2 separate regions of the Homo sapiens genome follow, and region 2 is linked to region 1. A link means that fine-mapping ties the variant in region 1 to the expression of a gene that starts in the linked region. Tissue or cell type: whole blood. Region 1 holds a variant in brackets; the other region holds the start of a gene. All regions are shown on one strand. Distances are from middle to middle.

Evidence for each region. PIP is the estimated chance that this variant, and not a neighbour inherited with it, causes the effect.
Region 2: it holds the start of PARM1, and the variant in region 1 is fine-mapped to the expression of PARM1 in whole blood (INTERVAL, PIP above 0.99).

What each region holds. Positions count from the first base shown.
Region 1 is chr4:75,130,322-75,138,429 of GRCh38, forward strand. No RefSeq gene overlaps it. Among named protein-coding and RNA genes, the nearest start is that of LINC02562, 50 kb to the left of the region's middle. The variant C/CA (reference allele first, on the strand shown) is at 4,193.
Region 2 is chr4:74,928,288-74,936,386 of GRCh38, forward strand. PARM1 (prostate androgen-regulated mucin-like protein 1) reads left to right here and starts at 4,829. Exons shown (of 4, transcript NM_015393.4): 1 at 4,829-5,083. The coding sequence starts at 5,041. RefSeq lists silencers at 4,663-4,972, 5,553-5,602 and an enhancer at 5,713-5,762.

The DNA of each region.
Region 1 (8,108 bases):
TGAGGCCAGCATCATTCTGATACCAAAGCCGGGCAGAGACACAACCAAAAAAGAGAATTTTAGACCAATATCCTTGATGAACATTGATGCAAAAATCCTCAATAAAATACTGGCAAAACGAATCCAGCAGCACATCAAAAAGCTTATCCACCATGATCAAGTGGGCTTCATCCCTGGGATGCAAGGCTGGTTCAATATACGCAAATCAATAAATATAATCCAGCATATAAACAGAGCCAAAGACAAAAACCACATGATTATCTCAATAGATGCAGAAAAGGCCTTTGACAGAATTCAACAACCCTTCATGCTAAAAACTCTCAATAAATTAGGTATTGATGGGATGTATTTCAAAATAATAAGAGTTATCTATGACAAACCCACAGCCAATATCATACTGAATGGGCAAAAACTGGAAGCATTCCCTTTGAAAACTGGCACAAGACAGGGATGCCCTCTCTCACCACTCCTATTCAACATAGTGTTGGAAGTTCTGGCCAGGGCAATTAGGCAGGAGAAGGAAATAAAGGGTATTCAATTAGGAAAAGAGGAAGTCAAATTGTCCCTGTTTGCAGACGACATGATTGTATATCTAGAAAACCCCATTGTCTCAGCCCAAAATCTCCTTAAGCTGATAAGCAACTTCAGGAAAGTCTCAGGATACAAAATCAATGTACAAAAATCACAAGCATTCTTATACACCAACAACAGACAAACAGAGAGCTAAAACATGAGTGAACTCCCATTCACAATTGCTTCAAAGAGAATAAAATACCTAGGAATCCAATTTACAAGGGATGTGAAGGACCTCTTCAAGGAGAACTACAAACCACTTCTCAAGGAAATAAAAGAGGATACAAACAAATGGAAGAACATTCCATGCTCATGGGTAGGAAGAATCAATATCGTGAAAATGGCCATACTGCCCAAGGTAATTTACAGATTCAATGCCATCCCCATCAAGCTATCAATGACTTTCTTCACAGAATTGGAAAAAACTACTTTAAAGTTCATATGGAACCAAAAAAGAGCCCACATCGCCAAGGCAATCCTAAGCCAAAAGAACAAAGCTGGAGGCATCACACTACCTGACTTCAAACTATACTACAAGGCTACAGTAACCAAAACAGCGTGGTACTGGTACCAAAACAGAGATATAGATCAATGGAACAGAACAGAGCCCTCAGAAATAATGCCGCATATCTACAACTATCTGATCTTTGACAAACCTGACAAAAACAAGCAATGGGGAAAGGATTCCCTATTTAATAAATGGTGCTGGCAAAACTGGCTAGCCATATGTAGAAAGCTGAAACTGGATCCCTTCCTTACACCTTATACAAAAATCAATTCAAGATGGATTAAAGACTTAAACGTTAGACCTAAAACCATAAAAACCCTAGAAGAAAACCTAGGCATTACCATTCAGGACATAGGCATGGGCAAGGACTTCATGTCCAAAACACCAAAAGCAATGGCAATAAAAGACAAAATTGACAAATGGGATCTAATTAAACTAAAGAGCTTCTGCACAGCAAAAGAAACTACCATCAGAGTGAACAGGCAACCTACAAAATGGGAGAAAATTTTCGCAACCTACTCATCTGACAAAGGGCTAATATCCAGAATCTACAATGAACTCAAACAAATTTACAAGAAAAAAACAAACAACCCCATCAAAAAGTGGGTGAAGGATATGAACAGACACTTCTCAAAAGAAGACATTTATGCAGCCAACAGACACATGAAAAAATGCTCATCATCACTGGCCATCAGAGAAATGCAAATCAAAACCACAATGAGATACCATCTCACACCAGTTAGAATGGCAATCATTAAAAAGTCAGGAAACAACAGGTGCTGGAGAGGATGTGGAGAAATAGGAACACTTTGACACTGTTGGTGGGACTGTAAACTAGTTCAACCATTGTGGAAGTCAGTGTGGCGATTCCTCAGGGATCTAGAACTAGAAATACCATTTGACCCAGCCATCCCATTACTGGGTATATACCCAAAGGACTATAAATCATGCTGCTATAAAGACACATGCACACGTATGTTTATTGCGGCATTAATCACAATAGCAAAGACTTGGAACCAACCCAAATGTCCAACAATGATAGACTGGATTAAGAAAATGTGGCACATATACACCATGGAATACTATGCAGCCATAAAAAATGATGAGTTCATGTCCTTTGTAGGGACATGGATGAAATTGGAAATCATCATTCTCAGTAAACTATCACAAGAACAAAAAACCAAACACTGCATATTCTCACTCATAGGTGGGAATTGAACAATGAAATCACATGGACACAGGAAGGGGAATATCACACTCTGGGGACTGTGGTGGGGTGAGGGGAGGGGGGAGGGATAGCATTGGGAGATATACCTAATGCTAGATGACGAGTTAGTGGGTGCAGCGCACCAGCATGGCACATGTATACATATGTAACTAACCTGCACAATGTGCACATGTACCCTAAAACTTAAAGTATAATTAAAAAAAAAAAAGAAAATTAACAAACAAAAAAAAATTACAAGGAATGAAAAGGAAAAATAATAATAATAATAAAATAAAAACCTAGATGAATCACTGTGTTCCTTCTAGCTCCTTCTAGTCCCTTCTAATGCCTGAGATTAACCTGACTTAGCCTCAAGAGTCCATCATGCTCCTGTACAAGCCCCTTTTCCATAACCCCACATTTTCATTTTCTCCCTCTCAAGAATTCTAGGGTTCATACTACATGCATACCTCGCCTTACATTAAGGGATATATGTATATATATATATATATATATATATATATATATATATACTTTAAGTTCTGGGGCACATGTGCAGAATGTGCAGGTTTGTTACATAGATACACATGTGGCATGGTGGTTCGCTGCACCCATCAACCCATCATCTACATTAGGTATTTCTCCTAATGCTGTCCCTCCCATCGCCCCTCACCTGCAACAGGCCCCGGTGTAGGTTGTTACCCTCCCTGTGTCCATGTGTTCTCATTGTTCAACTCCCACTTTCTTAAAGGTTGTTTACCAGATTTTGCAAACTATGTTATATTGCTACTTGTTTCATTTGTCCAAAGTCGTTGTCTTATTATCTAATAGTTATTCAAATGACTGCTCTCCACCCTCCCAATACTTCAATTCCAACCCCTAGGACACATCTTTCTCCTTTCATCATAGGTTCTTCAAGTCATCTTCAAATGATTAGAACACATAAATGCAGTGGGAGGTATGGCTTTGTGACTTCCCATCTCCTAACTGACTGTCCTGAAAATGTGGAAGTTTTCTTGACACTGAGTAGACCTGCAAGTGGCCACAGGGTAAGTGCCACGCAGCCCACTAGTTTTAGCAAACTAAAATTTAGTGTAAGAATTAAAATACTTTCTTCACCTTGGAGCATTTTGTCTTTCTAATGAGTCTATCTTTAGGGTTTAAGAGTGTCAAGCCTCAACTATTTTGGGTCATTAAAAACCCAGGGCACGGTTACAGGGTGGACAGGTGCTAATTCCTCTCTTCTGGCTGCACTCCACTTTCAGTAATGGCAACTGGCACCTGCAAATCCCCTTTGTGACACTAGAATGAGATCTGAAATCATTTTGCCCTGTATAATAGCTGAGACATTGGTTCCCCGGGAAGGCTGCCTCACATGAACACAGTATTTAGCAGAGACCTCTTCTAATCATATCCCTCAGAAAACATACTGGAGGCCCTCTCTAAAGTCCATCTCACTCTCACCACAAAACAAAGGAGGCTGTGGCATCACCAAAACACCCTTGATACTGCATAGATTTCTGCTATCTTTATAATCACCTCTTCCAAGTCTCTCCAGACACAAAATGAGAAATGTCAAAATTGAATTATTCCTTCATAATTATGCTCCTTAACTTGAAAGTTAAGAAATGGCCAAGTTAAGAAAGAAATGGCCAAGATTTCCCAAGATTAGAACAGAAATATGCCACAAAAAGAGCATTAGTGTGATATATCTATACTACCCAGTAACAAAAAGGAATAAACTGTTGATACACACAATAATCCAGTGACACATTTCCAAAGTAAAAGCCAGAAACAGTGGCTCATGCCTGTAATCCCAGCACTTTGGGAAGCCAAGGCAGGAGGACAGCTTGAAACCAGGAGTTTGAGACCAGCCTGGGCAACACAGTGAGACCCTCTCTATA[C/CA]AAAAAAAAAAATTTACAGACTACTCAGGCATCTTGACATGCACCTGTCATTCCACCTACTCAGGAGCCGGAGGTGGGAGGATCATTTAAGCCCAGGAGTTGGAAGATGCAGTGAGCTATGATCACACCACTGCACTCCAGCCTGAGCAACAAAGTGAGACCCTTTCCCAAAAAAGAACAAATCTCCAGAGATTATGCAGAGTTTAAAAAGCCAATCTAAAAGGTTACATACTGTATGATTCCATTTGTACAACATAAAATGACAAAATTATAGAAATGGAGAACAGATTAGAGTGGTTGCCAATGGTGAAAAAGTGAATTGGGTAGGTTGAAAGTGAGTATTGCTGTAAAAGAATGGCCTGAAGCATCCTAATGGTGGAAATGTTCTGTAACCTGACAATATCAATGTCAATATCTTGGTTGTACTATATTGTACTATAGTTTTTCAAGATGTTGCCACTTGGGGAAACTGAGTAAAAGATGCAAGGGGCCTCTGTATTATTTCTTACAACTGCATATGCAACAATCTCAAAATAAAAACTTTAATTAAAAAAAAAGCATTGGATTGAGACTGACAAGACCAGGTTCTAGTTCAGGCCCTTCCCATAACAAGCATGATCCAAGTCACTCAACCTCTTTCATCCTCAATTTCAACGTCTGTGAAATGGAGTTGAACAAGTTCATCCCCAGCATCCTGAGGAGTTCTACAGCTGAGCGATATCAGAGCTGCTCTTGATTCACAACAGCCCTTGAAACAGAGGGGCCCTCTGAATAGTCAAGCTACCATGGCTGAGTGGGTAATATACTTAAATAGTCTCTATAAATACCATTTTAAAAGACACAAACCTAGCTTACATTAAACATAACATGCAACGGCATAAACAAAGAAACAATTTGAAAGAAGAAAAGCTTGAAACAAATACTACCTCATCATTAAGGTTGTGACTACTAATAAACGAGTAATGTTCTATAAAATAGCGTAATGAAACAATGTATTTTGTTTACTGTAAATCAAGACAGCTAACCAGCATTTCTACCATTTTCTTGACATTATACACCCAAATTACCCCCTCATTCCCCAGACACTTTTCATTGTCAAACTATTCTTGTTCTTAATGCCCTACCCTCTGGGGAATGGCAGTGTGCAAAACAGGAAGTCCTTTAATATAACTTACAATTTTAGAAGGGAAAAACCCAAGCACCTTATTAAGAAATGAAAATTACAATCAGTCAAATTGTTGTTTATTTTTTATGTCACCAAATAAACCAGCCTGCTTTTATACACAAGATAAACTAAATTGAGTAATTTATTTAACATCAGAAGTATAATCGGTGTTAAAATATCAACAAACTGGGTAGTCTATTATATCAAATTAGCAACCTTTTTCCTGAAAAGGGTATTTTTCAAGGTGCTTCATTTTAAAAGGAGTGCATATTATTAAAGAAAGCCACATCAAACAAACAGTAACAAAACAATGTAAAGTCACTATCATCAGCAGTATTTGAGAAAAGGAGACAGGGTTGTGGGGGTAGGTTAATCAGTGAAGATGGAACTAGATCTCATGTATTGATTGCCATAGCCAAATAACTCAAATATATTATCATTACATCTACTGAAACTACATACAATATAATTAATTCTCTTTGGATAACTCAGTGGCCATATAAAATTTGCACTCTCTCAGATAAGAATAGGCATGACCTATTCGGTGCTGCACAGTGCTGAAATGCTTGATAGATTAGATGGAACCTACCAAATCTTGTGAAAAATAAGGTGTCGCTTTAAAATTTTAAAGAATCCCCACTACCAACTTATTAGTTCCACTTATTGCTTCAATACAAATTTCCAGGCAAAACAAGGACCCTCTCAGTATTCAGCAATTGTCATTTTTCATCTAGGAATGAACAGATGTTGCCTTAATGATTTTGTCTTCTGTGCTAAAATCGTTTCTTCGCTGCCCGTATTAATTTCTCAAGATTCGTAAGCTTCACACACTATTTTTGTAATCTCATTCCTATGTGCCTATTTAACTTTTCATTACATTTAATACTTCCCTCACTTGGTCTATAGCAATCAAAAAGTTTGTCAATAAGCAAACATTTATATTGTTCCCATTATGTGAAAGACACATTATTTTCACTGCACTTACTAAGTATTGAAGAATATACTTAAATATTTTAAGAATTGATGTTTATTTATAGCTATAAGATTTATTCCCAGAAACATTCCAGTGTTTTTTCATCATTAGAAATTTTGCAAAAATAATGTTAGGCAACGATTTTCTTCTAGAAAATCCTTAAAGTGTTGAAAAAATATTCTGTGCCTGGCTTATTTGTAAAAAAAAAAGAAATCTTTAATGTGCCATTCTTAACATAATTTTAGGTATAAACAATAATAATAGAACTCTAAGCACAGCATTTTAATGACACCCCTTATTTTCCAACAGATACATGTAGCTTCCTGAAACAACTTTAATATAGCTTTTTTTCTTTTTTAAAGTGTATGACTCAATTGTGTTTGCTTGTGAAATTACTTTGCAAAGATCTTGACTCACAGATGGAGGCTCTTTGCAGTGGTTCAGTGAGAAGCACTCACAGAAAATCTTATTGGTTGTGAGGCTTTAGGCATATCCTAAGGATCACAAAACTTTATTCCTTTTTATTAACCAGATCAAAAGATTTTTATAAAATTTCTTTTTAAAATTGATTGAATCTCAAGATTAGAAATGACTTTTTTTTTTTTTTTTGGAGGAAGATCTGGCTACTTATCCAGTGCTTGAAACACTCCCACAACCCACTGCCAAATGTTCATTCATTCTCCATTTAAACAGAGAAGAAGATATAAGTTAATAGAGCATGTCTCAAATCAGAGTCACTTAAGCTGCTCCTTATAATTCAGTCCTGACCTGATCCAACTTGGGTATGCACAATTTTCAAGGTTTTAAAAATAAATATCAAAAACAAAATAAATAAATAAATAAATAAATAGATAAATAAATAAATAAATAAATATCAGGCTCCTCCAACAGTTGTAGGTGAAGGTTATGGGTTTCCTTTCCACAACCCCCCTAAAACCAAATCTCAGACTGAATCTTGGTACACACCTTAGCATTTCTTAGCAAACATTCAACACTCATACCACCAGTTTGTCAAAACCCCTTGGAGTTATAGGTGTCCATTCCTCTAAGTGCTCTAATGGACTCTTCCATGAACATCTCATTGGATGGGAAGGAAGCCACACTCCAGCTGCAAGATTCTGCTATCTAGTTAGAGACAGGAGACCAAGAAGTCTCCAAATCATCAGATGAACATAGGCCCTTGAAGACTCAAAGCTCTGGGTGCCATTCCTAAGGATACAGATCACCGAGCCAGCTGGTCTGTATTCTGCAAAGACACCAAGACTCTCTCTAGTATTTCCAGAAAATCTACAAAAAATGAAAACCACTGATTTCGGCAAGAAATCCCTAGTTCTAACATTCACTAGTGAAATTACCAAAACTTTTTATGTCAACTGGAGATAAATATAATTGAATTTCTCTGGGTCATGGCTTTTTATTAAATGTTAGCTAACTTCTCTGGAGTGGATATTTCTGATTAAAGCAACTAACCACAGTAAAGGTGTAGATTAAAACAAACACACACAAACATGTTCAAATTACATAATCTATGCTGAAGTATTTTAAAGTAAATTACCCAAGACCTGCTGATTCATAATATCTAAGCCTGAAAATCCATGTTTCTATACATGATCCTCGTGTGCTACCTATGCACACTAGAATTTTGTGAACCCCTATCACAGATGTTAAGAACAGGGGCTCTGGGGAAAACAGACTTGTGTTAGAATCCTGGCTCTTCCACTCTATAGCTATGTACCTATAAAAATTATTTAAACTCTGATTCAGTGTCCCCACATGCA
Region 2 (8,099 bases), 200 kb before region 1:
CCCAGCTGGCTAAGACCAACTGGATCCAACATGGCACTGGATTTCACCTAGATTTCTCCTAGGACCTCGTTATATTATTGTTAACATTATCAATTACATACCCACCAGTGCCATGACAGTCCTGAGAACACCCATATTTGGTGTGAAAAAATAGGTGGCACCACAGTTCTGAGAAATCTCTAAATTTTTCCAGGAATTTTAATGAATATTCCACCCCTTGGTTAAAGAAGCCCATAAAGACAGAAACTCCAAACTCCATCAAACAACTCTGTCTTAAGTACCCCCACAATCCCCTTTCTTGAGTATATGCTTTTCACTTTGCAATAAATCTCCTACTGTCACTATTTTCTGACTCATTCTTGAATTCCTGCTTGCAATGGTGTCAAGAGCCTGAACACTGTTATCACCTTGGCCTTAGACATCCAGCTTCCATAACATGGAAAAAATACATTTATGTTGTTTAAACCACCTAGTTGGTGATGTTCTGTTATGGCAGCCCTAGCAGACTGATACAGAAACAAAGGAATAGAGGTGCCAAGTAATTAATTAGAATCACTCAGTTAGTAGATGGCAGAGGGGATTAGGACCCAACCTCTAACCACTGCAGCTCTCTCAGCCAAGTTATTCTCTCACTTAAGCCAAGAGTCCAGATGAAACCATCTCATGATATAAAGAATCCAGAAACAATACTTCTATATTACCTAAAATGTATTATCTAAAATTATAAAATATAATATATTCAGGATGTAAAAATCTATGTCAGCCAAGAGCAATTTTTTTGGTAAAATGTTAAAAGTCCACAACACTAAAAATTCATTTTAACAATGATCAAAAAAGAGTCAAAGTCAGTAAAAGGTAGATTTATGTGAGATTTTATCCCAGTGGAGTATTATAAAAGAACTAAGAATTCTACTAAAAAAAAAATGGCTTTTGCTGTAAGTCATAACTAAGGGTTACATGCAAATTCCATCCTTGACCCCACTGAGGAGTACTAGTTCCCCTGCTATTATATCTCATTGAATCCCTTAGTTTCCTTCAAAGTTTTATTCTGTATAAGTATTTCTCAGTTTCTTACTTTGTAACATTTGGATAATAATAGTATTTGGGGGGAGAAAAGATAATTTTTCTCTCTACCCCTTATGAGTTCTAAGCTGGGATCCCCTATAACAAAAGACAGATTAACAACAACAAAAACCCCACGAGGTTATTAACATGTATATTTCATATATATGTACAGGAGATAGTCAGGGAATTAGTAATTTTCAAAGAGGTGACTTTGAATTCAAACTTAAATATCATCTTCAGCTGAAACAAAGAAAGAGGAGTATGGGGGTAGGGGTGCAGTTATGAGGAAGTGACCAGGTAAAGCATGGCAAACAAAGGTAAAGTTTGTTATGCGTATTTAAGTCAGAGCCCTCTCCATTGATAAGAGTTTCCAGTAATTTAGTGCCATCCTTTTCTTCCTAGAATTCAGAGGAAGACATTTTTACAAATGAAAATTTCCTTTATAGATTTAAATTCACCCTACAAAAAGGTAATTCCACTCTGTTCTCAGAGTTGCTCCTATAGCTGCTGTTTCTCAAACAAATGCTTATACTGAAAAGGCATATTCTGAAGTGGCACATTCTGGTCTTCTACAGTATCTATCTCACAAAGTTAGAGTGTAGAAATGTAAACACATGACTGTACATAAAATGCTTGAAACAATTAATAAATTTTCATCATTATTATTATTGTAGCATTTAATATAATGTTATTGCATATGTCTTTGTGATTATTCATTCAATGTTTAACTCCCCACTACTAGAAAATAAGTTTCCTGGTGCAGGGACAATTAGCCCCTGTGGCACATATCACAATGTTCCCTGCTATAGAGTTCTCGTCTCTATCTGAGCACGCAAAAATAACATGCTTTCTTGCTTTCTTGAAGTTGGGCATGGCCATTGACTTGCCTTAGCCCATAAAATATGAACAGAATTGTCACTTTTAGGTGGAAGATTTAAATACTTAATTCTCCACTTCTCTCTTTCCCTAACTCAGTGGATGTGAAACTGTTAGAGGTGGATGTGAAACTGTTAGAGGTGGAAGTTATTTGAGTCACCGGCAGAGACTGCAGCAACCTCAATTCTTGCCTCGGAAGGAAGAATATAATTGAGGGGCATAAGGCAGAATAAGAGACTGAGGCAAGTTTCAGAGCAAGAGTGGAAGTTAATTAAAAAGCTTTAGAGCAGCAAGAAAGGAAAGCACAGTTGGAAGAGGCCTAAGAGGGCATCTTGGACGTCAAGTGCCCCATTTGACCTTGCACTTAGGGTTTTACATGCTGGTCTACTTCTGGCGTCTTGCATTGCTTTAATGCCCCCAGAAGGTCATATACCAGTTAAACTCCACCATTTTGCATCTTAATGCACATGCTTGAGTTCAGTCACCCACCTCCTGAGATCTTATTGGAAGCTGCTGATTACCAGTTTCATGTGTTCCCTATTTATGGGGAGATGGTCAGTCCCTCGTGCCAGCTGTAACCAATTATTATTTTAGAGAGACAGTTAATAACTGCCTGGCCATCACATGATGGTTACCTGACTTTCCTGGTGGGGTGTGGGGGGAGCCCTCTGCTGCCCCACTCATGCCTATCTAGCTACCTACTGTAACAAAAGCAGGTTTCGATATGGCGGTACAACACTGATCCTGAGGACAGCTACTCTGAGGAGTAACCTGGATCCATAGCAGACTTTGATGAGCAAAAAATAAACCATTATCGCTTAAGCTTGGGAGACTTTGGGCTGGTTTGTTACAGCAGCATAACCTACACTACCCTGGCTATTACAACCATTGTATTTCCATTGCCTAGCATAAGGGCTGGCGTAAAATAAGTGATTAAATATGCTCTGACTAAATTAATTAATAAATTAAAATTTTTAATCAGCAATTAAAATGAACTATTTTAATCAAAGAAATTATTTCAACTCTATCCTGCGTACAATAGAAAAGTTTTGGAAATTTTCACTGATTAGTGTGTAGGGGTCATGATTCTTTGAGTACCAAACCATTATCTTAGATATCAAGGTTAGAGTTGCACATGCTTCGCACTCCAGAAAGACTCCTTCAAGTTTTGCTGAATTTCAATTGAATAAATTTTTTCTGTGAAGTGGTCTTCAAAAACCTATATTTCTGCCATAGAGTCACTTACTTAACCTGCCCTATTTAAAGGGGCTAATGCCTGATAGAATGTCGCTGCATAACTCCATCTGTGTGTGGTCCCTGCATCCATGACAACCAAAACCCAGATGCAGAAATTGTTCCTAATCACATAGATTACCCTAGAAACCGGAAGGGCCTTGAAGTCAAAAGCATTCAGAGAACATGCTGAACAAATTGAATTTGCAGTTTATCTGGCCAGGGAGGATGGAGAGGGGATGGGCACTTGGTCTGAGTATTTTTTGTTTCTCATTCCAACAGAAATTACTAGATTTACCAAAACAAAGAGAAAAAAATATGATCCAAATTTAATCTGGTTGTGGAAGTGTGAGCAAAATCTACAAGTGGTAGTGTGATAGAGTCAGGCAGAGGAATTGACCATAGATAAGGTGCTCAGGACTCCTAGAGTCAGCTTCTGGTATGTGAGAAAGAAGTGAGAACAGAGCCCATGGCATATGAAGAAGATATTACAGAAAAAAGAAAGCTGCCTTCCACGCAAATCATTTCTTTACAAAGGCTTGTTAACTCCTGCAGTGCCCCAGCTCTAGTGACTAGGGGACCAATAGGTTCATTAATAACAGAATTGGGAGAGAACCTGGCATCTGCTTTGATCGAAGTGTGAGAATTAAGCAAGCCTAAAGTGTAGCAAGAGCAGGGAGGGAACTGAATGAAAGGTCAGTTCTAATCTGTAGGCTTTGGAGAAGCTTTGGGCTCTTGAGAGGGAGTAGAGTACAGAGGCTGAGCGGGGTGCCTGGGCAGGCATCTTATCATTACTTGCGAGTTGTGTGAACTCGGGCAAGTTAAACTTCTCTGTGCTTCTACTTTCTCCCCTGAAAACGAGGATATAATCTCCAAGGATTGTTGTGAGAACTAAATGACTTGGTTGATTCCTGAACAGCACGTTGTCCAGTGCCTAGCACATAGCAATCACTCAGGAAACGTCAGCCTTTATTATGGGCCTAGTGCACAAACTATTCTTACCAGTTATGCGACCTTGAGAACATTGTCTTCTCTGTGCCTTCATTTTCTCACCTGTAAAATGGAATAATAATAATTCTTAGAAGGATTCATGAAACAACGCCTAGTAGGGTGTCTGGCTTAGTTATCCCCCCGACAGTATTTTCTTCTAGTAAGAAGCTGAATGCAGCGGCAGACATCCTGGTTCGGGCCCCAGGAAGCTCAGCCGGGTTTAATGTGGATGAGGGTTTAATGATGTACACGCAGAAGTGTTTTGACAAATGAAGAAGGTCCTCATTCTTGGAACATGTGCCGGTTCTCCGAGGGAACTCCTAAAATGGCATAAGGTCACCTTTTTAAAGGCTGTAAGCTCATGTAGGAAAAGCTGAGCTAGATTCCTAAGGGCAGAGATGTGCTCACATTTCTTTGCATCCCTAGTTCCCAGCACAGTGCAAGGCGCTGCAAACATTTGCTGAACCCAGGGTCTCGTGTCTTGACTGTCCAGCAGAGGCCGCTCTGGGCCGGGGCTCTCGGGACCTGAGGGCTGAGAGAAGGAAGGCCAGGGGGTGGCCCAGTCATCGCCGCGGGGCCCGGGTGGGAGGGGTTTGGCAGCGGCAGGCGCGGCGGCGGCGGCGGAGGCGGAGGCGGCCCCGGGCTCGGGCGGCTGGGATGGAGCAGAAGAGCGCGGAGCACCGGAGGGCACGCAGCTGACGGAGCTGCGCTGCGTTCGCCTCGTTTGCCTCGCGCCCTCCACTGGAGCTGTTCGCGCCTCCCGGCTCCCACCGCAGCCCACCCGGCAGAGGAGTCGCTACCAGCGCCCAGTGCGCTCTGTCAGTCCGCAAACTCCTTGCCGCCCGCCCCGGGCTGGGCACCAAATACCAGGCTACCATGGTCTACAAGACTCTCTTCGCTCTTTGCATCTTAACTGCAGGTAATTGGCGCCATCCTCCCGGAAGGGCAGGTCGCGGGGTGGGCCCCAGTAGCTAGCGCGTGGTCGGGGCTGAAGCTAGGAGATCCGGCAGTGAGTCGCCGCGCGCCTCCGGGTGAGTGCGCAGGTGTGTGCGCACTTAGATTTGGGGTGACGTGCACCTTTGGCGGTCCCGAACCGTACTGAGGGAGGGGACGATGGGGTCCTTCCTGCCGCAGCCCGCGCCCGCACAAACTCCAGCTTTGTAGAACAGGTGGCTGTCTTAGCTGCGTGTTCGAACCCAGAGTGGGCAACACGGACTGCGCCTCAAGGCTTCTCTTTCTTCACCAGGGTTTCGGAGCGCACTCTGCCAAAGTACGGGACCAGACTTCTTGTTGCCGTTGGGCCCTGGAAGGGATGAAAAAGCCGGGGAAGTGGGGGTGGGAGGTTCGCATCTGGGAAGGCTTCAGCAGCGGCTGCGCGCCTGGCGGGGCTGGTTTGCTTTCTCGAGTCTTGGCGGTCTCTGATCTCCGGCGTCCCTTCCTAGTTATGCTTAGGATGATGTGGCACTAACAGCAGCGGCCCGGCCTTGGTCAGGCTCGCAATCGTCACTGGGGGTAGCAAGGCTACCTTCTGCCCCAGAACTCCCCAAAAACGTATCCCATAGAAGAAACTATTAACTTGGCTAAACTAGCATCCTCTCCCCTCCCCCTGCACCACCTCTGAAAGGCTTCGTAGGAGCCACTCTCGGGTTTCGGGACCACAGACGGCGACGACCTCTGGCAGCGGGGATGGGGAAGAGGGGAGCCAGATGACTGAGCTCGGCTTGGCGGGGACCGGGGAGAGATTCAGAAAGACGCTTTGAATCTAGAGTTCAGGTACCTATTTTTTCCAGAAAACGTCTCCCGAAAAGGGACAACTGGCTGTGGATATGGTGCTGCTGGGAAAAGTAGCCCGACTGCGCGGCCACTGGCATTTTCAGTTTAAATGTGACCCAAAGTCACATAGCGCAAACCGATTCTACTCGTGCTTTAGTCTGTATATCCTCCCTCTGAGTTCGTCGGGTTCCTACAGTTGTGGACACGAGTCGTCGCAATCCCTTGAAAAGAAGCTAGCGGTTTTCAGGCAGCTCACAGTGGGTAATGCAGTTATAAGGAAAAGTTTCCCAACTTGAAACTATAGCGTATTTTCTCTACTTAGTGAACGTCCGTCTGAGAAAACCTCTTTCTCGCTGGTATCTCGGCACGGTTTGGAGACGCGTCCGCGGACAGTTCCCGAATACTCGCAGGCGGCTTTGGCTGCCCAGCCTCGGGCTGAGATGAGAGAGCCTAGGTCCGGCAGGTGCAATAGGCAGCGGAGCTCCCGGCTGGCTGCGGGTGGTAATTCCTGTAATCCTCAAAGCAGGAGATGCTTACGTAATGACACGGAAGGTACCTTTACTTCTCCTCACTCAAAAATCTTTTCTTGAGGTTCAGAAACCCTTGAGTGAGTCAGTAGAGAGGTTCGTTTGCAAATTTGATTTAGTGGCTTGTCTTGTTTATTTAATCATTTCCTTTTTTAAACAGCTCTGGCAGTTGTCAAAACCGGGATTAACCCTAACAAACAGTGTATTGTAGCTTCCCCACCCCCACCCCAAGAAGCTCTTTTTTCTTTTTTTTTTTTTTCTTTTTTCTTTTATTCAGCGTTACAGTTTAGCTCCGCTATTCCGGGAGGAATATCACCCTTGACCCACCGCTAGAGCGAGGAGACTGGTGGGCCAGGGACCGGCTGAGCACCACTCCTACCCCCACGCACTAATTAGGATCAGAGCCCAGATGGTCACAGCCTTCCAGCTGTGAGGCTCGAGACTCAGGAAGACATACTGCCTCATTTCCCTAGTTATGCTTCGATATGCATATCCCAAGCTGAAAATGATGAAGCTAATGGACACTGCATTCCCCCTGAAGTTTGTGCCTTTGAAGGAATCTCTTTAAGACGTCAGTTTGTTGTTAGAGCTACTTTGCAATAAATCGTCCGAAAAAATAATATAAAAATTGGCATAAATACCTCATGAGATTCTTTGCACCTTAATTTTAAGGTGTTTTCAGAATGTAAAATATCATTTTTAAAGAAAAAAATAGACGTGTTGGTAAAGAAGAAAGGGATGAGGGCTCTTGAAGTGAAAGTGCACACACATGTGTTTTGGGGGCTTATCCCAGAACTCCCCTAGCAAATCTCTAGTTAGTTTCACCAGGCCTTGTGTCTTTTCTGTTTCCTTCTCATTTTCCTCCTCTAGCCATAGGCTTCAACAATATTTCTGTAAAATTCTTAAGGTGATACTTTCTTGAGCCAGGAACAGCATTAGGCAGGGGCCTGTTTTTTGGCTCAACAAATCCTCTCAAAGTATACATAGTATTTCCTCCAGCACATACAATGGACACTTGCAAATATGTGTGCGTTGTCAACAAGCCAACAAGGGTAGATCTCTACATGTATTCACTCGGGTATATATAAATATATTTATATATTTTTAGACAAAGGGTCTAGCTCTGTCACCTAGACTGGAGTGCAATGGCGCGATTCCAGTTCCACTGCAACCTCGGCCTCCCCATCCTCTCATCTCAACCTCCTGAGTAGCTGGGACTACAGGTTCACACCACCATAGGCAGCTAAATTTTTTTATTTTTTGTAGATATGGGGGGTATTCCTATGCTGCCCAGGTTGGTCTTGAACTCCTGAACGTAAGTGATCCTCCCACCTTGGTCATCCAAAGTACTGGGATGACAGATGTGAGCCACTGTGCCCAGCCTCACTTCTATTTCTAAAAGGAGAGAGAAATCTTAGATGGTCTTCAGTTCTCTCAAGGTTGATTATGGTAGAAAACTAGATGTCTATTCTATAAACCATTTTCAAACACTTCTTATGCCAGGATAAGGCATATTGGAGTACTGATTCCAGATTAAAATACAAACCAGAGCCTCCAACCTTTATCCCCAAAACCAAGAAGGGAACGAGAATGGCAGGCCCCTGGTAGCTTCCACATTTATCCCTCTCCTGCTCC